Homo sapiens: one gene and its partners. The protein of the gene in region 1 interacts with the protein of each later gene in a pairwise test. Each region holds a gene or a part of one and is shown on either strand. Other genes may lie near its edges. The genes, in order: AGXT, CFAP68, FHL5 and EFS.

Region 1 (7,172 bases):
GGTCACAGCTTCTTCTTGGGGCAGTGCTGCAGGGCCGCCCTCAGGGCCTCCGTCACGCGGTCCACATTCTCGCGGGTGGCATTGCAGCCCAGCAGGCCGATCCGCAGCACCTGGGGGGCACAGGGCGGGCTGACGTCAGCCTCCCGCCTGGGACCTGCCTGACCCTGACCGACAGCTGGCCAGAGCCAGGATGGGCTCACCTGAGTGAGGACCACCCACCCAGCGTCCATGAGGGGAGTTGACAGCCCTGTGCAGGTCACAGAGGGGGCCCTTGAGCACCCAGGCCAGGGCAGGCTCTCCTCCCTCTGCACCCGCAGCCACACGGGAGGACAGGGTGGTGCAGTGAAGGTCCCTCCCCACTGCCACTCAGAGACACAGCCAGGCCCAGGCGTGGGGCTTCCGGCCTGGTTCCAGGGTCTGGTCAGAGGGAAGGAAGGATGTTCCGAGTGGAATCATAAAGGCTGCACCTGGTGACCTCAGTGGGCTGGGGTGGGAGCAGGGGCGACAGGATACGCTTTACTGGATACCCCTTGGAGAGTGGGCCCTTCTGGACGCTCCTGCAATCTGGGCTTTCGGATGACCCCGGCCTCCCCTGCACCTGGTGCACAGTCCTGCTCAAGGAGGGGTGGCGGGTTTGGTTTCTGCAAAAGGCCCTCGAGGCGCTCCCTCTCACCTTCCCCGTGGAGGGCCCAAGGCCACCCATGATCTCAATGTCGAAGTGGTCTATGACGTAGCTGACGATGTCTCTCCAGTCATAGCCAGCGGGTACAGCCACAGTGGTGACTGTGGGAAGCCGGAGCGCCTGCAGGAGGGGCCTGGCTCAGTGCGTGGGTGAGAGGCCCTGTACGGGCCTTTGTGACAGCTCTTGGCCTGCACCATCTGCCCCAGCTTCAGGTTCCAGAGGAGCCGGGGGAGAAAGGGCCGGGAGAGAGCAGGGACCCCACCCCTTAGGAGGCGGTGGATGGGCACCTTCCCACTGGGAGATCACAGGCCGTCCTGAGATCCCGCATCAGAGGCCGGGAGCTGTGACTTCGTGGCTCCTGCCGAGACTAATCCCTGGCACCGAGGCCACACCACCGGGCAGCCGCCCCCTCCTTCTCAGGAGCCAGTGTCCCTCTTGAGGGGGCTGGGCAAGAGCCCCTCATCCTTCCCCATGGGTGCAGGGCTGCCCAATGCCAGGGGCCTCCTTACCGGGTCCTTCACGAAGAGCTGCAGCCCCAGTGCCTGCAGGCGCCCATGCAGATACGCCGCGGCCTCGCGGTGCTGGCGCCAGCTGTTCTCCAGGCCCTGTGTGGGAGATGGCGCTGGTGGGCAGTGACATGGGTGGGGTGGGCAGGAAGCCCCGCCCTCTGTGGTGCGGGAGGAAGAACCTGACTCTGCAGGCCTTGGTGCAGGGGAGCCCCTGGAGCCCCCAGTTTGACTTTGCCTGGGGCAGGGCCTGGGACTACCCCAGGGCAGAAGGAAACATCTGGGTCTGGGAGAGACAGAGGAGGGTTCAGAGAGACAGAGGGGAGGTCTGCCTGTGGCCCCTGGGGGAGAAGAGTGGAGAGTGCCTTGCAGGGGGAGGGGACTGGGCAAGGAGGGGAAGGGCTGTTGGGCTACACAGGGCTGGAGTGGATCAGGGCCAGGGCTCAGGGTGCTGGCTCCCAGGCCCCCTCTCCTCTCAGGGCCAGCTCCCCCGACCTGGCATCCTCCGCAGCACTGCTCCTGCCTCAGCTCTGGACAGGTGAGGGGTGGTCTCTCCAGCCCTGGGCCCCTCAGTGCCATTACCTCTGGTCACGGGTCCTCCCGGCCTCCAGCCACCAGCTCTCATGGCCACCCCAGGTGGGTCCCCGGAGCAGCAGCTGCTCTCTACTCTGGCCCTGGCCCGTCTTCTCTGCGCATGTGCCCCTGCAATCTGCACTCTGCCAGGTCCCTGTGCCTCTGCCCTTGACTGTGCCCTGCTGTCTGGTCCTGTTCTCTTCCTTCTCTGCCCAGCTCACACCCCCCACCCACCTTTACGACCCTAGAGCCTTTCCCTGTGTGAGCGCCTGACCCCTCGCCTTCCCCCGCGGGTGCGGGTGGCATTTAGCTTACAGGGGCACCCTGGCACTAACCCAGCCCTAGGCAGTGGCTTTATGAGTGGACCCAGGAGGACAAACGTGGCAGGCACGGCCTTGCAACCTCATGGGAAGCTGGCTGCAGCCCGGGGATCCTTCCTGGACTCTGGACTGGTGGCTGGCAATGGGCCCTGTGGGACACAGGACCCAGATGAAAGTAGGTGGGACTTCCTGTCTCGTGGCCTGCAGAGCTGCTGGGCCTGAGGCCACTCTCAGCCGCCTGTGTCCTGAGAGTGTGGATGTTGCAGTGTCCTGAGAGTGTGGATGTTGCAGTGGCCAAATCAACCCCTGGTCACACCCAAGTGCTCATGCTCAGCTCTTGCCCTGCCATAGGAGCTGGACAAGCCTGCAGGAACTGCCAACCCTCACTTTACATCCACGCCCACCTATCTGTGGGCACATCTCTGGCCCCTTCGGCCTCCCCTTCTCCCAGCCCACCCACTCACTGGGCCTCACTTACTGCTTCACACAGCAATGGAAGGGTTGGGAGCATCCACACCTGCCCCATTGCTGCATCTGTCCCTGGGGCTGTATCCCCCTGGCCCTGCCCGCAGCCAGTGTACCCGGGGCCCTGTCCTCTCTCCCCCACCCCCACTGAGGGCCTCTCTCTGGCAGGCTCCCTTTTCTCTGTGCACCAGGGATGGTTCCTTCTCTGCAGGCCGCGCCCTCGACAATCCAGCCAGTGGCCCTGTCTCCTCCTGTGGAGTGCAGCCCATGCACCTGTTCCGCAATGAGGGCCAGGCTCTCTCTCAGGCTGTACAGGCTGATGACGGGGATTGTGTGATGGTACCTGGAAGACACGAGGGGGCTTGGTCCAGCACCATGGGCAGGGTTGGGGGCAGATGGGGCATTAGCTCTGTCTGCCCCAGCCCCAACAGCACAGGCTCTCTGACCACAGGCCGGTATCCTCCGCAGAGGAGTCCTGTCCGGGTTCAGAACTTTGGACCGGGAAGGCAGCTTCGTCTGCCAGGGAGAGCATGGCTTGTGTAGGGCCCAGCCAGGAGGCAGTGGGTGGCTGCAGGAGCAGAGACACGTGCCACCACCTCCCTGCGGAGCCCCTCAGTCCCAGCGTGCCTGCGAAGCCGGCACTGGCCCTCTGTGCCCACTGGGCTAGGGCACCATTCCTGGCGCCTTGTTCCTGTGTGTAACATAAGGGGCCTTGGGTTTATGGCCAAGGTCGTCTTTTCAGAAGGGGTAAGCTGAGGCCCAGGAGTGGGGAGATGTGGCAGGGCCAGGTCCAAAGTGCCCGAGGGTGTGCTGGGACCTCTGGGGGGACAGTGTTTGTGGAAGCGGCAGTGGGGGCCATGACCCTGCCCAGAGCCTCGGGCCAGTCGAGGAATGGGGGAACCCAGGGTGGGGCATTTGACTGCCTGATGCAGGCGGATTCTGGGGCTCTAGTTGGGGTTCTTGAGGCATGAAGGTGGGGGGCTTGGAGAATCCCTGAGTGCAGTGAGAGGCCAGCGCCCCACCTCTCAGCCATGCCCAGCGCCCTCCACCTTCCCATCCCTGCCAGGCCTCACATCCTGGGCTGGTCGTCACAGCCCCAGAAGTTGGCCAGCCACTTGATGTCCAGGTAGAAGGAGAAGGGCTTCGTCTTGCGGGAGTACATCTTCTTTCTGGGGAGAAAGAAGCAGGCTGAGCACCAGCCTCTCAGTTTGGGCTGAAGGCCAGGGCAGTCTCGCTGGCTGTCCTGTTTCACGGGAGTGAGACGGGGTGGGGCCCCCAGGAGGGCCCGCCCCAGCTGCATTTGTGCTCAGGGGCCAGAGTGGGACCGGGTGGGTCGTGGGTCCCTCAGCTGTCCAGTCCCGCTGGCCCTTGGGCCCAGCTGTGTGACCCTGCCATGGGGGCACCAAGGCCAGCTCCCTCCACTCTGTGTGCCCCTTTCTCTCCCCCAGCCCCTCCTACAGGGTCAGCCTTCATTTCTCACATCACCCAAAGGTGACTGCTTTCGGGCCCCAGGGGACACTGGCCAGGCTTGAAACTTTAAATGTGTCCGTCTCTACAACTCCAGATGGAGGGGCCAGCCCCGGCCTCTCCCCAGGCTCCTGACTCACACCCAGCCGCTTCCTTCACCCTCCCGTGTGGTCCAGCTGGCATCTCAGACCTCCCACGTCCAACACCGAATTCCTGACTTCTCCCCGAAGTCCTCTCTGTTCTGGGGAACGGCACCTCCAGTTGCCAGGCTGCAGCTGGATGGGAACCGCCTGTGAGGTCTGGCCCCCTTCCCCTACCCCCTGCCCGGCCTGGCTCAGAATCTGGACACCAGGAGCGGGAGGTGAGATTGGGACTGCAGGGGGCACTGTGTGTGGCCCACGTTGTCCCTTGGGGCAGCCCCTGGAAGCTGAGCCAGGGCAGAGGCCGGTCAGGGCACTGGGCCTCAGGCCCTCAGTCCTTTCCTGGTCACTCCTTGCTGTGAAGCTGGGAACTTCCAGAGCAGTGGACTCTGCACCCTGCACACGCCTGCAGCCCTCCCCTCGCCCGGCCTCCCCACTCCCTGTGAACGCAGTGCCTTTGGCCTCCCAGAGGGTGGGCGGGAGAGCGCCAGGTGCTGGAGGAGCATGGGGAGCCCTTCCTGCCTGGCTCCCGCCCCTCCCGCCTCGGGCCACCTGAGCTCCCTGCAAGCCCAGCCCTGCACAGAGGTGAGGGTCTGTGGGTCACTCACTTGGCCTTGTCACTGAAGGAGATGAGCGAGGTCCCTGGAGGGGCGTTCAGGGCCTTCTGGGAGCCCGAGTACAGGATGTCGATGCCTGTAGATGGGTGGTTTGCTCGGGACGGGTGAGTCCCACCTCAGGGCAGGCCAGTCCAGCGGGATGCCTGCCTAGCTAATGGGCTGGTAGGCTACGACCCTACCACGAATCCGTACACGATAGCAGGGGAGATGTGGAAGGGAGTCCTGGGTTCAAATCTGGGCACTGCTGCGTGGCAGCCATGACCTCAGGCCTGAGCGTTTTAGCGCAGCTTCTCCCTCTGCTGTGCTGGTCCCCAGGGACAGCCCTGCCACCCCAGGCACCGTGTCCCTGGGGCCCTCCCCAGGTCCCTGCTTTCAGTAGTAGTTTGAGGATCAGCCCAGAAATCCCTCCCTTCCTGCCTGAGAACTCCCAAATCAGGAGGGGCTCTGCAGAAACAGACAGGCTCCCATGGAGTGGGTGGGCAGGCACCGCAGTGGATGCAATGTGCAGGCTCTCTCCCGTAAGCGGATGGGCACAGGAGGCTCCTTGGCCCCTCGGCCGGCCTGGTTGAGGTTCCCTGCGAGGTGACCCTGACAGTGGTGCTCACTGCTATGGGCAGCCTGGCAGGGCGCAGGGCAGATGTGAAACTGAGCCTCTGGGGGGTTGGGCAGAGGGGTGCCCAACGCCTGATTGACTGGAGCCCTGGCCCTTCCTCTTCCCACTGCTTCTGCTACAGCTCTGGGGCATCTCAAATGTCCCCCACCAGAAGCTGTCCCTCCTGCCAGTCCCCACGCCTGGATCTGAAAGCTCAGTGGAAACACTGGGGTGCTGGGTAGTTCATGGAGCCGCTCTTGCCGCAGTAAGGAGTGAGTGTTTCCCTGGGCCTGGTGGAGATGGGGCCGAATCCGCAGCATCGGCTGCTGGACGCACGCTTCCAGCAGGGCTTCCTGCACGCGGAGCCCCAAGGCTGCTTGGGCTGGGTAGGGCTCTCAGAGCCCACCCTTACCTTGCCGGTCCATGTAAAGGGGGGTCCCGCCCAGGGATGCCACCGAATCCACCAGGAGCAGGCACTTGTACCTGGAGAGGTGGGGGACAGAATGGAGGGCAGCAGGTGAGGCAGGGGGCCACTGGAGGGCCTGGCCCCAGGCTGGATGGGGTTTCTGAGCCTCAGGCTGGCAAGGAAGGCAGGGCACCTCCCACCTCCACCCCAGGAGTTGGCCAGTTGCCTTCTCCTGCCTGTCAGGATCCATCAGGACCTGTGGCTCTTCCTTTCTCAGCCCTGAACATTGGAGCAGAGGGAGCTGGGGGAGTGAGGGAGCATCACGGCCCTGGTGAGACCCAGCTGCAGGGCCCGGCAGTGGTGCTGAAGAGGGTCAGCCGGGCAGTCTGTGGTTCCCAGGGACAGCGGGTGCCTGAGGGCCTGTGTGGACCCCAGGGACCAGGGTGGCACCAGGCTGGGCCTACCTCTGCCAACAGCTGCTCGGCCCAGCCACTGGCCAGAATCTAGGCCAGAGGGGACAGAGTCCCAGAACAGCCCAAGCAGCAGCGCCACAAACTCTCACCCTCCTCCGCCTCCATGTTCACGAACTCTCGCCCTCCTCCTCCTGCATGTTCACGAACTCTCACCCTCCTCCTGCATGTTCACGAACTCTCACCCTCCTCCACCTGCATGTTCACGAACTCTCACCCTCCTCCGCCTGCATGTTCACGAACTCTCACCCTCCTCCTCCTCCATGTTCACGAACTCTCACCCTCCTCCTCCTGCATGTTCACGAACTCTCACCCTCCTCCTGCATGTTCACGAACTCTTATCCTCCTCCACCTACATGTTCACGAACTCTCACCCTCCTCCGCCTGCATGTTCACGAACTCTCACCCTCCTCCGCCTCCATGTTCACAAACTCTCACCCTCCTCCACCTCCAGGTTTTCTTATAAAGAAAAAAGAGACACAGAAAGTATCTCGTGCTGGCCGCAGGTGGGGATGGCCTGGGTGTTGCTGAAGCTGGCCAGGTTATGTTTGTGAGCTTTATTCATGGCCACGGTCCATGCAGCAAGCTGTCTGGGCTGGGGGCCCTGTCAGAAGGACCCTCCCTGGCCGTGGAGTTTCTCTCCTCTGTCCTGTGCTCAGACCTGCAGACGGGACTGCTGGGTCCCAAGGGGCTCTGTCCGCATTTCTCAGGAATCCCATCTGACTCCATTCAAGGCCTTGCCCTGTGCACCCCCATGCGGGGATGAGGGAGGCTGGAGGAGGGAAGTGGAGGGCATCAGGCAGCTTTAGTGTCCTGGCAATCTCGGGGTGAGGTGGGGACAGGCCCTGGCAAGATATGGAAGTCTGCACCAAGCCCTCTTCAGCCCTGGGGACAGAGGTCAGTGGGCACTATGGGGGCGCTCGGCCAGGGAGCA
Region 2 (8,763 bases), on another chromosome or scaffold:
CCCTTCAGATGATCCAGCAGTGATTGAAGACAGCCATCCTTCAGATTTTGATTAACCCCAAGGATAAATAAAGTTTCATGAAATGCTGGCATTGTGAAAGGCAAAATGTGGCACTTCTGAAAGACAGGTCCACTGAGGATGTGCAGAGAACCTGAGAGGAAGTCTGGTACTTCGATGACATCCTGAACATGCACTAGGAGAGAAGGTCTAAGGCAGATCTTGGCCTGGCCACAGGTTCCTTCACAAGCTTCTTCTTTACCATCTCTTCCAGGATTCTTGAGAAGGCTAAGTTCTGAAAATGACACTAGAAAGTCTTCCACATCTTGTGATGTCCCACCAGTCAGGGACTCAGAATTTGAGTTATCTTCATGGAGACTAATCCAAAAAGCAGCTGACAGAAAGTCACAATTCCAGAAAGGAAGAACACTGGTACCTTCCTGTGGCAGCAAAGGGTAGGAACACTTCAGCCTTTTTAGCGGGAAAACTTTGCCTAATTCAGCAATGAGTTTCTCATTTATGGTTTTGATAGGATGACATGAAGGTGCTTCCAGGAAACCCCTGTTTAAACACACACAAAAATAACTTTTCTAACTTAAGATAGTAAATAATTATAATGTAGCTAGAATTAAAAATACAAATAGCTGGACAGAAAAGAATTATCTTTAAATTGATCTTGAAAGGAAACAAAGAAATCATCTACCATAAGGAGAAACAGACGTGTATTTCAGAACTCTGACAGCCACCATCCCTACAATATATCAGAAAATGTGACCATTTATAATTCTAGAGATGCTTAAGGAGGCCAGGCTGACAAATAAACATAGCACCAACATCACTAACAATTTATGCACCATCCATTCAATATATGGTTGCCATCAAGACAATCAGGATACAACTGGAGATGGAAGTGATTTCCAGCAAAATAACTGGTTACCTGTTCAACTTTCCTACAAGTGCTTCTGGTTCTGGAAAGGAAAACCACTGGTTACCCAGTTTGATCCTGAAGATTCTGGGTTGAGAACCTTCAAAAGGTAAGCTCCTGGTGAAGATATGGTTCAAAGCACCTTCTACATGAAAGGACTTATCTTGACTCCTGGCAAAATAGACACCAATATGAAGTCTGTCATTATTAAAATAAGCAAGTATTTTTAGAGACCGAATCAATTAATTGGCAGGGCCTATTGAGTCTGTCTATGAGATTTTGTTATCATTAGTGAGAGAGATGAAAACGCAGAAGGCTTAAACCTATGCTATTACCTACCTATATCCAGTGCACTTGTACCCTGCCACAGCCTTACAGCTGAATGGATACACGTCGCTTAAAATGAGCCCCCCCAGGGCTGCCATGGCAACCACTTGCCAACTGTTGTGCCATTCTCTCTGGGGCTTATCCGCAGGAGTTCCACCTTGTCCTCTACATAATGCCACGTGGACTTCTCCTTCCTCTGCAAGAACGTCTGCACAGCTAATAGGGAGAAAAGAAACACTAACTAATTATCATAAACAAGCAGAAATTACCACAGGAGTTGGCAACATACACATGGTTTGCCTGTGAAATAATTAAAATCCAATCATACCTATGTGCAAAAATCTATTAGACCTCAAAAAATGCAAAGAAAGTAGCTGGAAGTAAATAGAAGCATAAATTAAATGTTCAACCCACTCACTGATAAGATTGGCTGACCAGGGTCTGCTTTGCATTTGTGTCATTCATGCATATGTCACAGAAAGATCAATATCTGCACAGTTCCTATATATGATTCATTGCTTAGGCTGTTTCTTCCCATTTAGAAAGTTCTTTTCACTGCCCTCCTGAAATTCAAATACTAGTTTAAAATACCACCTCTGTCAAAACTTTATTGACAGCTATGCCCCATCGGACACCTCCAATAGTATCATGTCTTGTGGTATAATCATGTAAAGCACTGTTTTCAGTTCACAATAATTTTATGAGGCTGTTAGTTACTTTTTTTTTTTTTTTTTTTTTTGAGATGGAGTCTTGCTCTGTCGCCCAGGCTGGAGTGCAGTGGCACGATCTCAGCTCACTGCAACCTCCACCTCCCAAGTTCAAGCGATTCTCCTGCCTCAGCCTCCCAAGTACCTGGGACTACAGGCACGTGCCAGCACGGCCAGCTAATTTTTATATTTTTAGTAGAGGCGGGGTTTTGCCACTTTGGCCAGGCTGGTCTCAAACTCCTGACCTCAGGTGATCTGCTCACCTCGGCCTCCCAAACTGCTGGGATTACAGGCATGAGCCACCACGCCTGGCCCAGTTAGTTACTATTAATATCCCTAGTTTACAGTTGAGGAAACGGAAGCATGTAAAGATTAAGTAAGCTTGCTTAAAATAACAACTGTTGGCCGGGCGTGGTGGCTCATGCCTGTAATCCCAGCACTTTAGGAGGCCAAGGCAGGCGGATCACAAGGTCAGGAGATCGACACCATCCTGGCTAACACGGTGAAACCCCATCTCTACTAAAAATACAAAAAATTAGCTGGGCGTGGTGGCGGGCGCCTGTACTCCCAGCTACTTGGGAGGCTGAGGCAGGAGAATGGCGTGAACCCAGTAGGCGGAGCTTGCAGTGAGCCGAGATTGCACCACACCACTGCACTCCAGCCTGGGCGACAGGGCGAGACTCTGTCTCAAAAAATAAAAATAAATAAAAATAAAAAAATAACAACTGTTAAGTGGTGGGCTGGGATTTGAATCCAGGCAGTCTGGCTTCTAAGTGCACGTTCTTAGCCATTAGACTATATGGCTCTCATTATTTTGCACTGTCAAAAATAAATGATCCTCTTTTACACACCCAAGAGTACATTATTTGTACTTTCATTTAGCATTTAGGGTTTATATATCTGTCTTTCCAACTAAACTTGGGGTTCCTTTGGGGCTTTATAGTCTCTTCTAAACATATCATAGTAGCTTGCACGTGTGCCTTATGTTTGGGTACAGTAACTATGTTATGGACATCTTAAACATTTTCCTTGTGAGGGCGCTCCTTTCCTCACCTTTGGAAAAATTTGGCAAGCAGTTCCCTGTTCTTAGCTACGCCAGCTTTGCGTCCACAATGCGGGAAGATGAAATAAATTTGATCAAATTCTCTCTCGTGCAGTTCAAAGACATCTGCCAGCTGGGTGCAGTCCACACCGAAACGTACATCGATACCTGGCAAAGATAGTTTGGGGGCGCAAAATATAGACAGGAGGATGCCTCAAGACATGGAACAGAAAAACTCTTCCTAACTTAAACCGTGCAGACCAGCCCAAGTCTGGGCACAAAGCCGGCTTTATGTGAATATCCGTGGGACGATCAAGAACAATCTCCACGTGGGTTACATCCCCACGCCCCCACCCTTTCCACTTTGGGACGCGCCGGCCGCTGGGCGGGGTTTCGCAGAGGGGCGGGCTCGCTACCTCGCTCGCGCAGGCACTGCAGATTCTCCCAGGCCAGTGGATCCCGAGCCAACTCGGCCGGGCGCTGGAGGCAGGTGGCGGTAAGTTGAGTGCTCTGATCCAGGGTTTCGCTCAGAGCGGCGGCGAAGGAGAAATTCCCCTCCCCAACCAACAGGAGGCGCCGAGGGGCCATGGCCTCCACGGACTCCCGGCTCGCGTTCTCTGTGGCGCTCGTTTTACGTCACTTCCTTCACGGATCTCTCTCCGCCCCGTCTTCTCCCGTCACTAGTTGATGACGCACCCATGGCGCCTGGTTGTCTAGACGAGCCGGTGTACCGACTCCCCGGTGGATGATAACTATGAGTGCAAAAGCAAGACGCGCACTTTCCTGTCACCTCGCCCTTTCACCCCCTCGGGAAGATCAAAGTGTCTTTAGCCCAAGCATGGCCTTGAGCGACTTCATCACACCTGCATGAGGTCACAAGCAGTCACTAGCGCAGGGGGGTGAGGCGAGTTCTGGGTGAAAGAAACGGGGCGGGGCTGAGGCCAAGGAAGAGGTTGGACTGTGTCTCGCATGCTCCTGACGCAGAAGGTTTTGAACCTTTTTTCACCTCGTCTGAAATGGCTGCCTCCCAGTGTCTCTGCTGCTCAAAATTTCTCTTCCAGGTGCTTAAATCTCCTATCTTCTATTCGTTCAAGAAAGAGTATTGAGTGTCTATTGCGTGCCAGGCCACTGTGAGGGTGGTTACGATATGTGGATGAACAAAATGTGGCCTATGATTTCAATGAGCCTGCAGTCTGGTGGGGAATGCACAGAGCAAAACAGGCAACTCTGATATGGCAGGGTGTGTGCTCTGGGAGCACACAGAAGAACGTTACCAAGTTTGGGGGCGAAGAGGGTCAGAGAGTCCTTGGATGAAGTAAACCCGAGTTGAAAGCTAACAGGGTAAAAGTGCATCTTAACTGAGTCAAGAGGCGTGAAGAGGCAGAAGGAACAATATATGCAAAAGCTTGATGGAGAAACAGAATAGTTGAGTTTGGCTGAAACACAATTGGAGGGAGAGTAACAGATGAGACTGAAGAGTTAGGCAGGGGCCAGGTCATAGGGAGCGTTGTAAGCCTTTAAAAAAAATCAACTTTTATTTTACAAATGGGGGTACAGGTACAGGTTTGTTACGTGGATATATTGCACCCAGGTAGGTTGCAGGTTTGCTACATGGGTATATTGCACCTAATAGTTTTTCAACCCACACCACCCGCCCTCCCCACTCTAGTTAGTAGCCTGGAGTGTGTGTTGTTTCCATGTTTAGGTCCATGTTTGCTCAATGTTTAGCTCCCACTTATAAGTGAGAATGTCAGAGGTATTTATACCAGAGCAACTCCGTCTTGAATAGGGGCTAGGTAAATAAGGCTAAGACCTGGGCTGCATTCCCAGTAAGTTAAGGCATTCTTAGTCACAGGATGAGATAGCTCAGCACAAGATACAGGTCATAAAGACCTTGCTGATAAAACGGGTTGCAGTAAAGAAGCCAGCTAAAATCCACCAAAACCGAGATGGTGATGAGAGTGATCTCTGGTCATCCTCATTGCTACACTCCCACCAGCGCCATGACAGTTTACAAATGCCATGGCAAAGTCAGGAAGTTACCGTATATGGTCTAAAAAGTGGAGGTATGAATTAATCCACCCCTTGTTTAGTATATAATCAACAACCATAAAAATGGGCAACCAGCTGCCCTCAGGGTTGCTCTGCATATGGAGTAGCCATTCTTTATTCCTTTACTTTCTTAATAAACTTCCTTATGCTTTATAGACTCACCTTGAATTATTTCTTGTGTCTCTTGGGGTCTGGATCAGGACCCCTTCCGGTAACAAGAACATGCTGTATTTGGTTCTCTGTTCTGTTGTAAGCCATTTTAACAGACTGAATCTTACTCTGAAAACGGTGGAAAGCCACTGAAAGATTTTAAATAAGAAGATGATACAATTATACTTTCACTTTGAAAAATTCTCCTTTCCTGTGGAGAAAGGTTTGGAGAGGAACAAGGCTGATGGCATGGCAGGATAAAACAAGAGGCAACTGCAATAATGGAGACAAAGCTGACAGTGATTTGAATTGAAATTTGGCAATGGGAATGGAGGGTGGCAGTCTGATTCAAAAATCAACAAGACTTAGTGACTGGATGAAAATTAAAGACAAGTCAGAGTCAAAGATAAGCCCCAGGCTTCTGGCTTGGACAACTGAGTGGATGGTGATGTCTGTCATTCCAGCCCTAGAGACAGTTACACCTAGATCTCCAGTATGAGTACCAGGCCCATTGGACTTTGTGGCACCAGCTACTCTGGTCATCATGTTGTTTGGTAACATCAGTGCATGCATCTGTCTTCACAAAGGCAGATGGTATGAGGGTAGTTACCTGGGATGTCATCCTTCAATGCTGCATTATTGGCTTTGTTTCTGCCTGTGGAAAGGCAAGTGGGTGGTGACTCCCAAATCATGGCCACTTGCCCATGGTAATCTGGGTGATTCTTTCTTTGCTTGGAGAACTGGGAAAGCCAGGTTTGTTGACATCTTTAAAGAACATGGAACAGCCAAGTAAGGATTTCTGTGACTCTCATAAGAAATCTTCAAAGAGCTCAACCTACTCAGCATCAAGTTACTCTTCTTCAGGAAAGGTATCATCTTCCTAAGTCAGGGGGCCAGACTCACATTTTGGGGAAAAAGAAAGATTGAGCTTTTATCTTACCAAAAAAAATGAAATCAGACATTGATCATCTGGTATATGCAATCCAGATTGATTGGGAGAACAGGCAGAAGGACAGGGTACAATAATGAATAAAACAGATCCTGTCCTTAAGGGGCATACAGCTCTGTATAGGAGATATAATGCAGACTTAAAGAACTCTAATGTATGGTAAAAAGTTATAAATACAGGGAAAGATAAAGTTTTATGTGAGTTGAAAGAGAAGCTAACTTCAGGGAAGGCATCATTTGAGCTAGAAGGAAGGAAATGATCATTTATTACTCATTTATTGTGTTATCTAGTTACTCAACTCTCACTTCTTTTTGTTCTCTTTGACTGTAGCAGTGCTTTTAGTCCCTCAATGCCTACATCTCAAAATTACCTTAAAAATTTAGCTAATTCTCCATATTGTATTGGGAATACTGAAGTTTTTCCTGTCTCTTCACGGGGCCTGGGGAGCGGGGGTGTGGATTTAATCCATGTAGTCACCCACTGTTGCTGATTGAAAGAATGGATCAAAGGGTCCCAGGACTTAGAGAAGAAGAAACAGAACCATAACATAGCCTGGATCATTAGTACGGTGTGCTTGTGTTATACCTGGCTATGTAAAACAAGGGCAGGAAAAGATGCTTTTTCTCTTCTCTGGTTTATGCAATAAGCTTTTCTATTCTTGTCTTTTCCCAGAGACAGAACCTCGCCTGTTTCCTCACAAACCCACACTGTGGCAGCCTTGTTAATGCAGATGGCCATGGTGAAGTGTGGACAGATTGGAATAATATGTCCAAGTTTTTCCAGTATGGATGGCGATGCACCACTAATGAGAATACCTATTCAAACCGTACCCTGATGGGCAACTGGAACCAGGAAAGATATGACCTGAGGAATATCGTGCAGCCCAAACCCTTGCCTTCCCAGGTAATCTAACTTTGTCTTTTTTGTTTGTTTGTTTCCTTCTGTTGGCAAAAGAAATGTAGTGGCCATTTGAAATGCAGGGATGTAATAACTTCTGGTGCAGTGATCTCTCAGTTTTCAGTGAAGTGGTTGGGGCAGAGGAACAGTCCGCAGCTGAACCACCTATGCTACTTTACTGTCAAGTTGAATATTTTATTATCTGTAAGGTTTCAAAAGGAAGGGCAGTCCTCTTTTTCTCTTACTTCTGTTTGGACTTTATCTCTTAGTCTACAGAAATTTATAATGTCTTCTGACTTAGACTAGCTTTTCCCCTGGTCCTTGCCTATCTAGACTTGTCATTTATCTGAGTCTTGCACTTAAATCGCTCCTAAACAAACAAACGTACAAAACATGTGAAAGTTAGAAGGATATAGACTAACACCATAGAACTCAGTCCATCTAAAATATGACAGTCCGTGAGAATTCATGTCATATTGATCTTTATTTCCTGATGTTAGCTGTAGACTTCCAGATTCTTAATCTGTTAATTTTTCTTTCCAGTTTGGACACTACTTTGAAACAACATATGATACAAGCTACAACAACAAAATGCCACTTTCAACACATAGTACGTGGACTGTTTTTTCAAATTCTTACATTTTCAGAACCTAACTCAGTGACCGGCACATAGAAGGAACTCAAATAAAAGTAAACTGAATAGGTGAATAAGTGAGGCTGGGCGCAGTGGCTCACACCTGTAACCCCAGCACTTTGTGAGGCTGAGGCAGGCAGATCACTTGAGGTCAGGAGTTTGAGACCAGCCTGGCCAGCGTGGTGAAACCCCATCTCTACTAAAAAAAATACAAAAATTAGCTGGGCTTGGTGGCGCATGCCTGTAGTCCCAGCTACTCAGGAGGCTGAGGCAGGAGAATCACCTGAACCCGAGAGGTGGAGGTTTCAGTGAGCAGAAATCAAGCCACTGCACTCCTGCCTGGGTGACAGAGTGAGACTCTATCTCAAAAAAAAAAAAGAAAAAAAAGGTGAATAACTACATGAATGAGTAAACAGGATTTTTTCTTCAATTTTAACAGGACTTACTGTCTATTCCCTAGAAATAAGAGCAAGATCAGTTACTAAAACTCCTTAGTGTTGACTGTTTTCATTTGTCTTTCCTTCCTTTTTTTTTCTTCCCTCAGGATTTAAGCGAGAGCCTCACTGGTTCCCAGGACATCAACCTGAACTGGATCCTCCCCGATACAAATGCACAGAAAAGTCAACTTACATGAATAGCTATTCAAAGCCTTAAATTGGGCATCACTCAGGATGTGTATAAGATCTTAATATTGACTAGTTTCACATCCAGGTTTCTAAGAAATGATAAGATACTTCACTTTTCCAGAGTGAAATGTAGGAGGGAGCACATTCTAAGTACAGCTAAAAATTTAGCTCACTGTAACACAGTTTCACTCTCTGAATAAATAAAGCAAAAAACACAGTAAATATTCTTTATCCCTTTTTTTGTTGTTGTTTTAACCAAGATTTAAATGTCAAATTTAATACAGCAACTCAGTTCTACATTTGGGGTGTTGTAGAAGGGCCTTAAAAAGAATTATTTTAGGCCAGGCACGGTGGCTCATGCCTGTAATCCCAGCACTTTGGGAGGCCGAGGCAGGTGGATCACGTGAGGTCAGGAGTTCGAGACCAGCCTGACCAACATGGTGAAACACTGTCTCTA
Region 3 (5,768 bases), on another chromosome or scaffold:
CTAAATGATACTAATAATGTGGATTAAAGTTTCATGAAGATTTGTGTACTAGACATAAATTTTGCTTTAGATAGAATAAATAAGGGTTTAAAGCCACCAAGAGTTTTAGCAATTCCTTACATATAGAAATAAGAAATTAGCAAAAGACTATCTGCATCAAAGCAGAAAAATTCAATTGAAGTGGGATTTTTTTCATGAAATATTTTCAGAGTCACAGAAATAATAATTAGAGGATATTTTTAGTTTAGAATATTTTCACCATTTTATTACTGTAAGAAAGAGCATAGCTATGGATCCCCTAATTTAACAGAAGAGAGATTCTGTTTGGGTCGGACAATTTTGTTTTTTTCCTATTAATGCCCTGAAATAATATCTGAATATATAGTTATAATTTGAATGTTGTAAAAACAGATGGGTAATAGAAGGTAAAAGTTATCATGTTTCTTTATGTAATCGAAGTAGAAACACTACAGAATTTATTCCACACCTATTCTGTTTACTAAACAGTTAATGTAAAAAATAAATCTTTAAAAATAATGTGAGTAATATAGACTATGTAAAATGTAAATTTATTCAGTATAAGAGACTTCTAAAAACCAATGTATAAAATTAGCAAAAACTGTATCATTATCATAATAAACATCTATCTATAGGTGCATTACAGACTATGTGCTTGATTAAATATATCTAAAACATACCGTAACAACTATTTTCTTTTTTTTTCTTTTTGTTTTGAGAGAGAGTCTTGCTCTGTCGCCCAGGCTGGAGTGCAGTGGCGCCATCTCGGCTCACTGCAAGCTCCGCGTCCCGGGTTCACGCCATTCTCCTGCCTCAGCCTCCCGAGTATCTGGGACTACAGGCGCCCGCCACCGTGCCCGGCTAATTTTTTGTATTTTTAGTAGAGACGGGGTTTCACCGTGTTAGCCAGGCTGGTCTAGATCTCCTGACCTCGTGATCCGCCCGCCTTGGCCTCCCAAAGTGCTGGGATTACAGGCGTGAGCCACCGTGCCCGGCTAAACAACCATTTTCTTATTTAAAACACAGACAATTAACAATATGCCAAGTAGATTAAAAGTTATTTTTTTCTTAAATTCAAAAATGGTATTGCTAACATGAAATGTGTTTTTGGATTGACTTTTCATTTGTGATATTAAATTTGGCAGTTTTTTTTAACCATTTGTGATTAGTGTTATGCATTTTTCATAATGGTAGGCCAATATTTTACTCTAATGAACAATCTAGTGTTTCTTTTTTTTAAGTTATAGCAACGATGTAAGCTTTGAAGCCTGGATTGTAACATAACCACATTTTACTTAACCAGTGGAGCTAGTTTGTCCCAATTTAACACTTTTATAATGCCAAGTTAAAATTGAACCCTTGGGCTTCCTAGTCATTATTATTGAAGCAGAAATACATTTTTGCTTCTTTTGTCATCTTTAATCCCCAACATGACAAAATAAAATATTTTGACTTGTTGACTTGCATACTCATCTTTGCCAACAAATGTAACTCGTGGCCTTCAATGCCTTCTTCCTCTTTCTTTTCACTTTTGTAGCCATTAACCAAACTTATTCCTTCAGTAAGAAACTTAATCCTTGGAACCTTGCTTTCTTTGGTTCTATTCCACAAAGGATCAAAAGCATAATTTTCCTCAAACACTACAATAATTATTTTCTTCCTTTACTTATGAACAGTTGGTAACTTTCTATGGCCGGTTATGTCACTTTTTATCCTAAGAGTTAATATTCTCCCTTCCTCTGACTCTTTCTCTTTTAGCAATCTTATTTTCTCCTGCTCTTCGGCAGTCTCTGCTACTTCCAAGCCATCTGGTTGTTATTGGCACATGGGATTTGCTTTTAACTTCTTTCCTGCCCATGCAGATGTCACCTTTGAATTACTGGGAGCCCACTGTTTCCTGAGTCAGTCCATTTCATCTTTGGATAAGTCCATTAAGGAGTTTTTCTCTTTGTTACATAAACCATATAAATCAACTATATAATTTTTACATTTATCTTTGTGTGTGTTACGCAAAGACCTAAGGAGGTCTTTTTCTTAGTTGTTTTGCATATGTGTGCTATGTCTACATATGTGGTGCTTTGTTTAACCTGCAGGCAAGGATCTTTGCATCAGGCACTTCTGCATTTCCATACCATGATCCATCCTCCTACAACTCCAGACCCACAACAGTATAAGCTCTAACTTTTGGCATAGTACATGTTTAATGGATGTTTGATGTGTAGGATACCTTCTAAATGCAGAACTATTTATATGTAAAAGTATATATATTTATACTTATGAAAGGATAATAAAATCTTTAGGAAATGATTCTGTGAATTTTAATTGTAAAGCTAGAATACAAGTCTGATCATGTGCATACTCACTGCCCCCACACAGTAAAATGCCTAAACATTTCCAATTGTTTAACTAAGAAAACATTACATGTTGTATATGTATCTATAATTGGTTAACAGAGAAGATGTTACATGTTATATATCTATCTAAACCTAAGTGGCTTGGTTTTCTCTATGTGTAATGTGCTATTATTTTCTATATCATAGATTTAGTTCTACCTGTGAAATTTCATATAATGCAGAAAAAATATTGATAGTTTTGCCTGTATTTTTCAATGTGAATATGAAAAAATACCTTGGCATTGTTAATCCAAAAATACATTTATAGTTTTCAAATAGTCTATCTAGCAGAACACTTATTAGTATCTCTAAATTATTAACATCGCTGAATATTCTTGCATTTTAAACTATTTCAAAAATTATTTCCATAACAATTTTAATTGAATCTCCTGTGATGCTATTTTGGTAATTGTAATCAGCAGTATCTTACAATTAGATTTTAATCAAAACCTTTAATGCTATAATGTGTAATCTGAGAGAAGACAGTTATATATCTATGTGGGCTTCTTCTCCTGACCTCCCTCTACTCCATCCAAGAGATGCTATAACCAATGTGAAAACAGATCATGGAGAGCAGAGGTTGCTTTCCATTTGTCCCAAGTAATGTGGAAAATATCCAGGGGTAGCAAGATAGGGTCATGATCAGTTAAAGTCTGGTATAAAGATAAACCTGGTGATGGACTTCTCACTAAGGCTCTTTACTTCCTGTGTGATCAATAAACACTGACTGACTTATAGGACAGTTGCTTAGGGTTAGGAGTGCACCTCCTGGTTATGCAGGAGATTGAAACTGGGGGCACAACTGGCTTGGGGTAAGGGGGGTGTGGCACAGGTGTGGGGGAAGAGTGGGGAGGGCTCGCCTACAGCCCACATTACTCTATTGTGCTGCTTTGCAGGTTCTGAATTATCAGCAGTGAATTATTCTTTTTCAGCTTTTATTATTACTAGATTTCTTTAAAGCCCACTTTTATGTCTGCCCATTAATCATTTATGTAATTTTAGAAGGCAATAATGCATGAGGCACAGAGCTAATTATGCATTCTATTATGTCGTTAGATATCTGGATGAAAGTCATGTTCCAAGACTCAATCCCTTCCCTAAAACTCATTTCCACAAGTGAAGATTTAATGATCTATTTATTTTAAAGGTTTGCCTTTGGGGACAAAGATTATCCTGGTTAGCTCCACTTGAAAGAATAGACTTTTATTTCATGGAATCTGTAAGCGTTTAGAAAAATCACTGTGGACTTTGAAAATATATTTAATACAAAACGTGTTGAAACCCATGCTTTGGCTATCCCTAGGTAGAAATGATCCTCTTTATACCTATGCAGATTATGAGAGCCATAATGTCCTCAGTTCTCATATTCCATTGAGTAAACACAGAACTAGCAAGCTGTGGAAGCAGTGTGTATGAGGGCAAATTGTAGCTTTGTTTTTTAATTCTACAGTCAGTATGTGTGAAAAAAAGGATGATTTTTAAATGATAACAATTCTTAAATGTGATAATTGCTAATGAATTTACTCTGATCAGTTTTGTTCTTTTACCATTCATAGCTAATTTATCACATTACATATAACCAGGAATGCAAACACTAGCCTCATGTATACCTCTCAGTTTGATCTCTTAGTTTTTCTTTTACTCTTCAGGTATGAAAAACCTCATTCTTCAGTAATTACATCCACAGCTCCTAGGTATATGTCATATATTTGATTATGAAGAGATATTTTCCTCTGCTTCTAACAGCAGAGTGCAGTATTTTGCAAGGAGAGTTGTCTTTGTGATTTAGCATATATTCATTTCTGTTCTACTGTGCTTTTTGTGTGCTTAGAATATAGTTCGATCAAAATGTGTGCAAAAACTTTTCCACTCTAAACTACATGAATATTTTCTAAAACTTAAGTCAAAAATAAGACCGCAACTGAGTTCTGGCTTTAGTGACAACGAAGGCAAAATGGATTTTAGGTGGGCAAGGACTGTCTCCTAGATGTCAGTGTCCATTCCGGAGCCACATTTTTGGCAGAAGATTTCCTTGTTCTGGGTCAGGAAGCCTTTACCCACCAAGGAGACAGAGCATTTCCCGCAGTTAAAGCATTCGCTATGCCACTGGCTGTCTTGAAAGCAGATAAACTTGGCACCTGTGAGACCTGTAAAGGAATTGGAGAAAAAGATTAATCTATCCTTTCAAGGAACAGATTGAGCATTCTAGCAGATGCTCCTCTAGGAACTGGAGATAGAGCTATGAGCAAAACAACGCAGAGGCAAATAACCCAAAAAAGAATGCTGCTTCCTGGCCCTGTGTCCATCTGGAACTATCCACTGTAGGAAAGTTACACCTATGCCACCCAACCAGATTCACAGCCAAATTCTGCCATAATCAACAGAAGAAGGCAGAATGCTAATATGCAAGTCAGGTATTTTTGGAAACAGATAAGGTTGTCTAAGCCAGATAAGACAATACAGTGTAGCATAGTGGAAAGAAGGTATAGGTTGTGAAGTCAGAGATATCTAAGTATGAATACATTTCCCCTTTTTCTCTATATGACTTTAAGTTTTCTTAGCTGCAAAATGAAGATAAAAGGAAATAAATGTATGCTTCCTAGTTTGATGTCCAATGTTGTAATGAGTTTTAGTTTTCTTCTTTCCCCTCATTTTTCTGTGCTTAGTTGTACTTAGAATATGTCCTGGGGTTATACGGTTTGGGACACTATTTCTAGAAAGCATAACCAAATAGAGGATTTTGTCTAATCATTCAGCCATCCTAACGTGATGGCCTTATTACCTTGCTCAGAGCCAGCTTCAGCTTTTGTTGAATCTGGCCAATGAAGCCACGTTATCACGTGATTGGTTTCTAAGAGCTTTGTCAGCCTCCTCCACTTTAACTTGGGCCTCACTTGAACCATACTGTTTCTTTAAAAAGTAGTCGAATTTGAATCTTCGGTGAGGGTCTGATCTCTGTCTCCTTAATGTGATTCCAGGGTATAGTTCAAGAAATTGATTTTGAGAAGTTACATTAAAGGAGAAAATGTTAGGGTTTGGGAAGAGGTTGAGATGCCCTAGGCTTGGGTCTTTATTTATTTCATGTTTTCTCCCAGTAATCTTAGTGCTATTATTTGCTTATCATCCATGGAGTGAGGCTAAAAGAGTTATGTAATTCATATGTAATTTCCAAATACTCCATTTGGAATGGTGAAGTGAAAGGGTGAATAGCATTCTATTTCAGATACATTCTTCTTAAATAGGATAATGAACTTTTGTTTCCATCCTAACAAACTTATTTGATGTCTTCATATATAATTTAGTAGTTCATACAGAAAATTGCATCAAATTTCTCTACTTTCCTTGATTAAATTTATA
Region 4 (8,036 bases), on another chromosome or scaffold:
AGACAGGGTCTCACTGTCTTACCCAGGATGGAGTGCAGTGGCTTGATCACAGCTCACTGCAGTCTCCACCTCCCCAGCTCAAGCAATCCTCCTACCTCAGCCTCCTGAATAGCTGGGACTACATGCATGTGCCACCACACTTGGCTAATTTTTTGATGTTTTGTTGAGACAGGGTCTCACTGTGTGGCCCAGGCTGGCCTCATACTCCTGAGTTCAAGCCGTACTCCGGCCTCAGCCTCCCGAAGTGCTGGGATTACAGGTGCGAGTCACTGCATCCCTCCGAAACATTTCTTTGCTAATGCATCAAGCAGCCTCCTACCACTTCCCCTCTCCCAACTCATTTCAGCATCTCTTCAGGTTTTACTATGGTGCTGTATAGCCAATATTCCTTGGGGATTTATCGTCTGCATCCTTGTGTCTGTCCTGGAATAATAATCACTTAATTTATACATTGTGGGGCTGTTCACATGCATTTTCTTGTTAGGTCCTCACAATAACCCTGTAAGACCATTATGATCATGCTAATATTGAAGATGAAACCAGGACTTCAGAGGGACTGGCATGATTTACCCATGGATGCACAACTACATGGCAGATCAGAGACTTGAATTGAAACCTCTAATTCCAGGCTAATCTCTTGAAATTCTGTTTGGAAGATGATGGACGATAGACTTCAACACATGGGGGTGAATTTTGTTGGCCCCAGAATCTGACAGTGCATTTTTCTTTGAGAGTGAGATGAGAAAGGAACCTAAAGGGGAGGAGGCAAATGTGCAGGGGTGCCAACAGACTATGATTATGCCCCCAATCCAGTCATCATGCCATGGTAATATCTTGGGAAAGCAGAACTGAAGCAATTGATTTGTAGCTTGGATGTTTTCCCTTGTGGTAAATGGCTAGCGTGATCTATCTAAGCCACGGTCTTATCAATTTCACCAAAGTCCTGAAGACTGACCTTTCAACACATTGCATTCATCTGCAACCGCGGATCCTCCAGAAAATGGTTTGTCCAGAAGGATGATGAGCAGGTCATCCTGAGATGATCTACCTGGGAAGCCAAGTGAAAAGGCCTATACCCTCTTGGTGTCACCTAAGGAAGAGGGTGCCTAGACTGGCCAGCAGCAGTCTCCAGTTGGCCAGGGCTATCCTGTGGTGCAAAGCTGAGGCTGGGCCTTTAGTTGGGGTGGCCTCTCCAGGATGGCACATTTCAAGGCCCTTATGTGGTCAGCTTCTCTCCACATTGACACCTCTCTAATGACATCATATGACAATGAAGTCTTGGAGGAAGGCCCTCAGGTCAGTCATCGGCATCTGCCTTCTGGGAACACTAGTCCTCAGACTCTCCTCCTCTGGGTTTCAGTTCAGATCTCACCTCCCAACCATCCTGTCTAAAGTCTCCTTCACTGCCCTCTCCCCTCATCTAGTTAGTTTCTTCAAATCATCCTGCCGACGTCCATCACCAGCAAATGTCGAATCTATGGCAGGTTTATGTTTTTATTTATGTATTTTAACTGACTTATTTGTGTATCCCACTAGAACAATACATTCACAATATACTTGCAGAACTGTGCCTGGCGCGTCATGGGAGCAGAGAACTTGTCCAGTGAATAGTTGTTGAAGAAAGGAGTAAAATCTCCCCCAAACCCTAAAGGCATCCTTTTCGTAGTGTGTGTCCCATAGGTATGGCTGCTGAGCACCAGGGCTGCTCACCATGCTCCCAAGAAGCAGAGTCAGGGAGGCAGACAGCAGGGTTTATTAAGGTGCACACCCATGTCTGAGCCCCAGCTCTCTCCGCCTTCTGTGGGGAGAAGCCCTCCGGTCTTTCCGAGAACCTTCAAACTCTGGACAGTTTATGTCTTGCCCGCACTCTCAGCTAACAGTGCAGTGCTGATCTTCTAGAGCCAAGAAACAGGAAAAGAGAGAGGCTCTATGTGGCCCCAGGTTTCTGCCACCTGACTTTTCACAGCCAGTCTTCCAGAGGTGGGTGGTAGTGCAGTGACCTCCACCCTAGGCTGAGGAGAGAAGGATCTAGTTCCTCACTGCCCCAGAGCCTAGTACCTGCTCCTGACAAAGCAGGGAATAATATTAAATATAAATAATTTACACAAAATGGCTTGTACAAAAAGCTGTAGGTTAGGGGGAGAAGACACCTCTGTGAGAGGTTGAGATGAGCAGAAAGGGCAGGAAAGGGGAAAGATACCCCCATTTCTCCTAGTCCCTTAACAAAGCCTTCCAGCCACCCAAGGCCTAAAGGGGGGCTTTGGCAGGCAGGGGAGGAGCAGAGCTGTGCCAAAGGACCTTCATGGAGCCAGGCTAGTGAGCAGGGTAGTGAATTGCAGGGCCTGCCCTGCCAGTTCTGTTACACACTGCACCATCTCTTGGATGGCAGGGCTGGATGGGTAGCCCAGGGCAGCTCCCTTGACAGCCAGCACAGTGGCCCGCAATGCCTGGCCCAGTGCTGTACCTGCAGCCCTGACCTGTGCTCTCAGAGGGGCAGAGGCTGCCAGCCGGCCCAGGGTGTCCCCAACAAACACCAGGCGATGAGCAGCCACCACCACCCTCTTGCTGTGGGGCACGAAAAGGCGCGGGGGCTGATTAGCCTGGGTACTGGACATCAGGGCTGCCACGGCTGCCTGCAGGGCTGAGTAGTGGCTCTGGCATTGCCCAGCATAGAAGTACAGGAGCTGCAGATCTCCGGTGGACACAACCAGTGGCTCCCCTGGGGACAGGGCCTCCTGAAGGGCAAGAGGAGTGGTCAGAGAGAACATTCTCATGAGTGCCATTTCCTCCCTCACTTCTTTTCTCCTTCCTCTCTTTCTTCCCAAGGGCGATCCTTTTAGCTCTTACCTCTGCCCATCGGAAAGTTTAGATTCTAGAGAGAGCAGCAGTGAAGTGCCCACACTTGATATCAGATAGATCTGGATTCAAACAACCTCAAACTTGATTTCGGACAAGGCTTTGAACTTGGTTTCCTTAACTCTAAAACAGGGAGTCTAGGACTGCACTGTCCAATATAAACATAATGTGAACCACATGTGAAATTTTAGATGTGTTAGTAGCCACATTAAAAGTGGTTAAAAAAAAAACAAAACCCTAATATATTTTATCTAACTCCAAATATAAAAATGTTATAATTTCAACATATAATCAACATGAAAATTATTGAGATTTTTCCCATACTGAGTCTGTAAAATCCAGGCTGCATTTTATATTTGCAGCATATTTCAATTTGAACTAGGCCTATCTTGAGTGCTCAATAGCCATATGTAGCTAGTGGCTACTGTACTAGATAGTGCAGTTCTAGTATGTACCTCATGAGGCTGCAGTGAAGGTCAATTGAGATAATATACAGAAAGGGCTTAGCAAAGTGCATTTCACACTGTGAGCACCAGATGAGTGTTAACTGTGGCTGTGATTAATACTAACACGTGCAGTGTGCCTAGCACAGGGTCTGGCACTTGGTAAATACCTGATAAATGGTAGCTATTGTGTTGCGACCATTCTACGCAGGGTTGAGGAAACCACCTCACTTTCTGAGGCCTGGAGAGATTAACTGACGGCTTCAAAGCCCCTGGCTTCTCAGTAGTGAAGCTGGGATTAGAAGCCAGGTCTCTTAGGAGCCCAGGAATTCACAGTTGGAAGGAGGCTCAGAAGTCCCCAGGCCCAGCTCTGACCCCACAACTCAGAAACTTTCTGCTCTCCTGGCTGCTTGATTTTCTGACTCCTCTCCAACACATTCTTTCCCCTCTTTCTGAATTCCTAACATCCTCTTCCAAGGTCCAGTTCCTTCCTGTAGATTTCTAACTTGCCTCCGCTCTGTCCCTGGTTCCTGTGAACTCTCACTCCATCCTAACCTATTTCCTTCCACGGTTGATGGCTCAGTTCTTCTCCCAAGTCCCCATTCCTCCCTCCCCTGTCCCCTTCTCTAGCACCATTCCCGCCAGGGTCACCTGCGGCGCCGGCATCCCCCTCTCGGGCAGTTCAGGATCCCCTGTGCAGGCCTGATCCGGGGGCCTAGATCCCTGAGCTTTGTCCATGCCCTGCAGGAGGGGATCAGGTCTCAGTGTCGGGGTGGGGGAGCAGGACGGGGTGGCCTCTGTGGCCTTTCTGCCCCTTCCCCGGACCCCCTTCCTTCCGAAGGACACTCCTGTTATCAGAGGTTGTAGTCCCTTGACTCCAGAGAGCTCTGGTGGCCCCAGGCTGGGTCTAGGAGGAACAGTGTGGCACTGGTACAAGTGTTGTGGCCAAGTACTGGGGTCCCAGGCTGCAGGGTAGAGGGAAGGGGGACAGAAGGGAGGCAGGGAGGCTCTGCCTCTGTGCCCTAGGTCTCCACACCCCTCCCCTTGGTCCCTCTGGGGTCCCTCCTGGTGGGGCTGCCAAGGGGCGCTCACCTTCAGGTGGACATAGTCATACTCCTCGGCCATCGGAATGCCCTCGTACTCATTGTGGTGTCCTGCTGGGTCATCCTCCATCTCCCTGCCCTCTGGATCCCCCTCGACCTTGGGGCCTCCATAACCAGGCAGGCGGGGTGGGGGTGGGGGCAGAGGCCGGTCCTGGATGCTGCCCTTCCGGCCTGGGGCAGGAGAGGGCACTGGGGAGGGGCTGGGGGCCTCAGGGACAGGCAGGGCAGGCAGAGGGCGGCGGGACAGGCTCTCAGCTGAGGGGAGCCGGGGCCTGTGTGGGGGTGGGGGGCTTCTGGCCAGAAGCTGGGCCAGGGTGTCCTGGTCATGGGAGGCCAAGGCTCCAGGGGGCTCTGGAGAAGGGGGAGCCTCTGGCCCCAGCAGAGGCACATCGTAGATCCCCTCATCAGTGCCCCCGCCCTCCCCGTCTGCCAGCAGTTCCTCGGGTGCTTCATACAAATTGAGTAAGGCTGACGCTCGTTTCAGGTTGGAGGGGGCAGCATAGATGGGGGGCCCCGGCTCCCGGCCTCCTTCCCACTCCAGATCTGGTTCCAGCTCTGCAGGTGGCTTTGGGGTCAGAGGCACATCATAGGGAGCATCATCCTCTCCAGGGGGCTGCGGGGCAACCCGGGTCAGAGGGTGGGAAAAGGAGGCAGGGCAGTCATAGGGGCCACTGGAGGGCACCCGGAGGGCGGTGGGGGGCACATCGTAGACCTGCGGAAAGGAGTGGTCAGTCATCTGTCAGCTCAGCGATGAACCCTCCCTTGGGGCCATTTGTCTCCCACCCAACATACACAGGGACCTCTAGCCCTCACCTCCAAGGCATCTCTGGGAGCAGCCAGCTGGGTCCCACTAGCTCTGGGGATTTTGTAGATGAGGTCAGGAGAGGGTGGGCAAGGTCCAGCTGGAGGTCCTGAGGTTGGACAGGGCCGAGCTGGGGGCGGCACCACATACACCTGAGGGATCAAATAGATGGGGGGTCAGGAGGAACGGAGGGGCCGGTGATCAGATAATGTCTGAGTGCGAGGAGCTTAGAGACCTTCTAACTCTCCCTGTATCGAGAGGGCCACAGCTCAGAAAGGTTGGTAGACAGGTTTCGTCCAGCGCAGAGCAGTGAAGAGCTGTGGCCTCAGGGCTCTTCCTGCCCACCTGCTGCAGGCCCTGGGTGGGGCTAGTTGGGGAGGAATGGGGCTCTTCTGGCTTGGGGTTGGGGAGGCTCCCACTCTCACCTCCTGGTCCTCATTGCTGTGATCTGGGGCTGGATATGGTGAGCCAGGCTGGGCTGGGGACGCAGGAGAGAGGCTGGGCTTGGGTGCTGGGCCAGCAGGCAAGAGCTTCACCCTGTTGGCGGGCACAATGCCCTGCTGGCCGTGTAGGGAGCAGAGGCACCAGCCGTCCAGTCCACCAGCGCCCTCTCTCTGCAGGACCCGTAGGACATCCCCTCGGCGGAAGGACAGCTCCTGGGGGGACTCAGCGGTGTTGTCATACAGTGCCCGGGCCAGCTGGGTCTGGTTGGGGAGGTGGGAGTGGGGAGAAGGGTCTTCAGACCCCTTTCAGGTCACGTCACCCCTGCTTAGAACCCTTCGGAGCTCCGCATTTCCCTCAAGCTAAAAAACCTGAACTCTGGATGCAGCTTTCTGCCTGGGCCCTAGCTTCTCTCCAGCTTCACCGCTTGCATTCTCCCTCTTCCTTTCAGTTCCTTCAACTAGACCAGCTCTCCTCAGAGAGGCCGATTCTTTACTCTTCTCCCCGCCCCATTCTCTGTTTGTCTCCACCTATTGTTTCCATCCTCGTACTTTATACTATTTGTCTATTTGCTTCTTTTGTATCGATTTCTTCCCTTATACTGTAAACCCTATGAACATAGGAACGGCTATATTTCTAGTCCTTGCAATAAGGCCTGACCTGGAATTGGTCATTACACATGTTGAATGAATGTCTTCCAAAACATGTGAAGCCCTGCTACAGTCTCTCATAGACCTTCTCTCTGTTCCCAAGTCATTATCCCTCACTAGCAAAAGGTTAGATTAAGCAGCCACAGAGACCTCTCATTCTGAGAGACTGGGAGAGGCCTAGTCCAGACAGTGTGCCTAGGCATAATAAGAAAGAAAACAGAAACAAAGCAATTGTTTTGCTCTCAGTCTGAGCAAATAAGTTTCTACCAGAAGAGGCTGAGGTTACCATGGAGAAAAGTGTGTATTCTTGTGTGTGTGTCACCACTGCCTGGGATCCTTCCAGCAGGCATCATCATTTAGCAATGGGCCCTTCCATTGCAGGACAGAGTGTGTCTTTGTGTGTGTGTGTGAAGGGGGTTGGCAGGCCAACCAAAAGGAAACATGTATCATTCTGTTTCCAGTCCTGTCTGGTGGGGGCTTATAAGCTTTTTCCATCAAGGGCCACAGGCTCAGGTAATAACTCACAGGTACCAAGTGCAAACAACGTTTCCAGACACTGTGCAAATCTTTGCATTAATCAACTCATCTCATTTAATTCTCACAACAACCTTACGAGGGAGGGACTGTCATTACCCCATTTTGGAAAGAAAACTGGAAGAGGGAGGTTAGTACTTTGTCTGATGCCATATCGCTGGCACAGCTTGTGGAGCATAATCTGAACCCTAAGCTGCTTGATCCCAGAGCCTGCGCTCTCAATCACTTGTGCTACTGCTTCTCCACAATTACAAATGTAGGAATCTACTTAAAAGAAAGAGTAGTAACAGTGGCTGAGAGGGTCCCTAACTCAAAAGCAAGTCAAGCGCATAGGAAAGCCTTCTTATACCCTATTTCCCTTTGCTATAACCCTTCGCAGTGCTCTTGCTCCATGATGTCATTTGGTAGAATCAAGCTAAAACCACTCAAAACATACAATTACATTCAGCTTCAGTTTTGATTGCTAAATGATGATGCTTGCTGGTAGGATCCCAGGCAGTGGTGACTTACATGTAGTGTTGGAGAGCAGCTAGTTAGGCATTACTAGCCAGGTAGCCAAACGGACTGACTAATTCAGCAAAAAAATCTCAAAGTTAAAGATCTCAGGCAGGCTGCCACCAGACCCTGGGGAGAAGGATGCCCTGCTAGAGTCAGCAGGAGTGCATATTCCTCTTAGCTGATGTTTCCCTCTGGTGGTGAGGTTATCCGGCCTCTCATGGCTGGGTGATTTTAACAACAAATTGACCCCTCTTCTTGCCTGATTCCCAACTCATCAAACCATTTTCTGATTATATTTTGGTTTCTAAAGGATATTGTCCCACACAAAGAAACGTGCTAACCAGATGACACAAATTCCCGGTTAGTGCTGCACTTTTCTTTTTAGTTGTAAATTATAAATCAGTCTTTTGGATCTAGCCAGGGGATTAAAAGCACAGTTCTAGAGGCAGACCTGGGCTTGAGTCTTGGCTGTGTCTCTTTCTTTTAAAATTTTATTTAAAATATTTCTTTAGAGATCAGCTCTTGATCTGTGGTCCAGACTGGAGTGCAGTGGCACAATCATAACTCACTGTAACCTCGAATGCCTGGGTTCAGCCTCCTAAATACCTGGGATTACCGTTGCGACCCACTGCTTGGAGGTCTGTCCCTTTCTTTTTCTTTCTTTCTTTTTTTTTTTTTTGAGACGGAGTTTTGCTCTGTCGCCCAGGCT

The links.
Region 2: the proteins of AGXT (region 1) and CFAP68 interact in binary tests that used the Homo sapiens proteins (3 or more experiments, as listed by UniProt).
Region 3: the proteins of AGXT (region 1) and FHL5 interact in binary tests that used the Homo sapiens proteins (3 or more experiments, as listed by UniProt).
Region 4: the proteins of AGXT (region 1) and EFS interact in binary tests that used the Homo sapiens proteins (3 or more experiments, as listed by UniProt).

Annotation. Positions count from the first base shown.
Region 1 is NC_000002.12:240,871,652-240,878,823, reverse strand, and holds part of AGXT (alanine--glyoxylate aminotransferase), read right to left. Parts: intron 5,846-7,172; coding exon 5,775-5,845; intron 4,847-5,774; coding exon 4,762-4,846; intron 3,716-4,761; coding exon 3,620-3,715; intron 2,890-3,619; coding exon 2,820-2,889; intron 1,288-2,819; coding exon 1,192-1,287; intron 803-1,191; coding exon 674-802; intron 111-673; coding exon 3-110; 3' UTR 1-2. UniProt on the Homo sapiens protein: Peroxisomal aminotransferase that catalyzes the transamination of glyoxylate to glycine and contributes to the glyoxylate detoxification.
Region 2 is NC_000011.10:111,875,547-111,884,309, forward strand, and holds the start of CFAP68 (cilia- and flagella-associated protein 68), read left to right. Parts: upstream 1-3,994; 5' UTR 3,995-4,014; coding exon 4,015-4,059; intron 4,060-5,938; exon of another isoform or gene 5,939-5,976; coding exon of another isoform or gene 5,977-6,069; intron 6,070-6,821; coding exon 6,822-7,052; intron 7,053-7,589; coding exon 7,590-7,656; intron 7,657-8,224; coding exon 8,225-8,334; 3' UTR 8,335-8,763. Other genes in the region: FDXACB1 (ferredoxin-fold anticodon-binding domain-containing protein 1), read right to left, coding at 1-558, 935-1,093, 1,262-1,465, 3,010-3,166, 3,415-3,586. UniProt on the Homo sapiens protein: Microtubule inner protein (MIP) part of the dynein-decorated doublet microtubules (DMTs) in cilia axoneme, which is required for motile cilia beating.
Region 3 is NC_000006.12:96,614,399-96,620,166, reverse strand, and holds the end of FHL5 (four and a half LIM domains protein 5), read right to left. Parts: intron 4,559-5,768; coding exon 4,395-4,558; 3' UTR 1,541-4,394; downstream 1-1,540. UniProt on the Homo sapiens protein: May be involved in the regulation of spermatogenesis. Stimulates CREM transcriptional activity in a phosphorylation-independent manner.
Region 4 is NC_000014.9:23,354,926-23,362,961, forward strand, and holds the end of EFS (embryonal Fyn-associated substrate), read right to left. Parts: intron 5,909-8,036; coding exon 5,630-5,908; intron 5,357-5,629; coding exon 5,216-5,356; intron 5,115-5,215; coding exon 4,392-5,114; intron 4,041-4,391; coding exon 3,951-4,040; intron 2,736-3,950; coding exon 2,301-2,735; 3' UTR 1,481-2,300; downstream 1-1,480. UniProt on the Homo sapiens protein: Docking protein which plays a central coordinating role for tyrosine-kinase-based signaling related to cell adhesion. May serve as an activator of SRC and a downstream effector. Interacts with the SH3 domain of FYN and with CRK, SRC, and YES.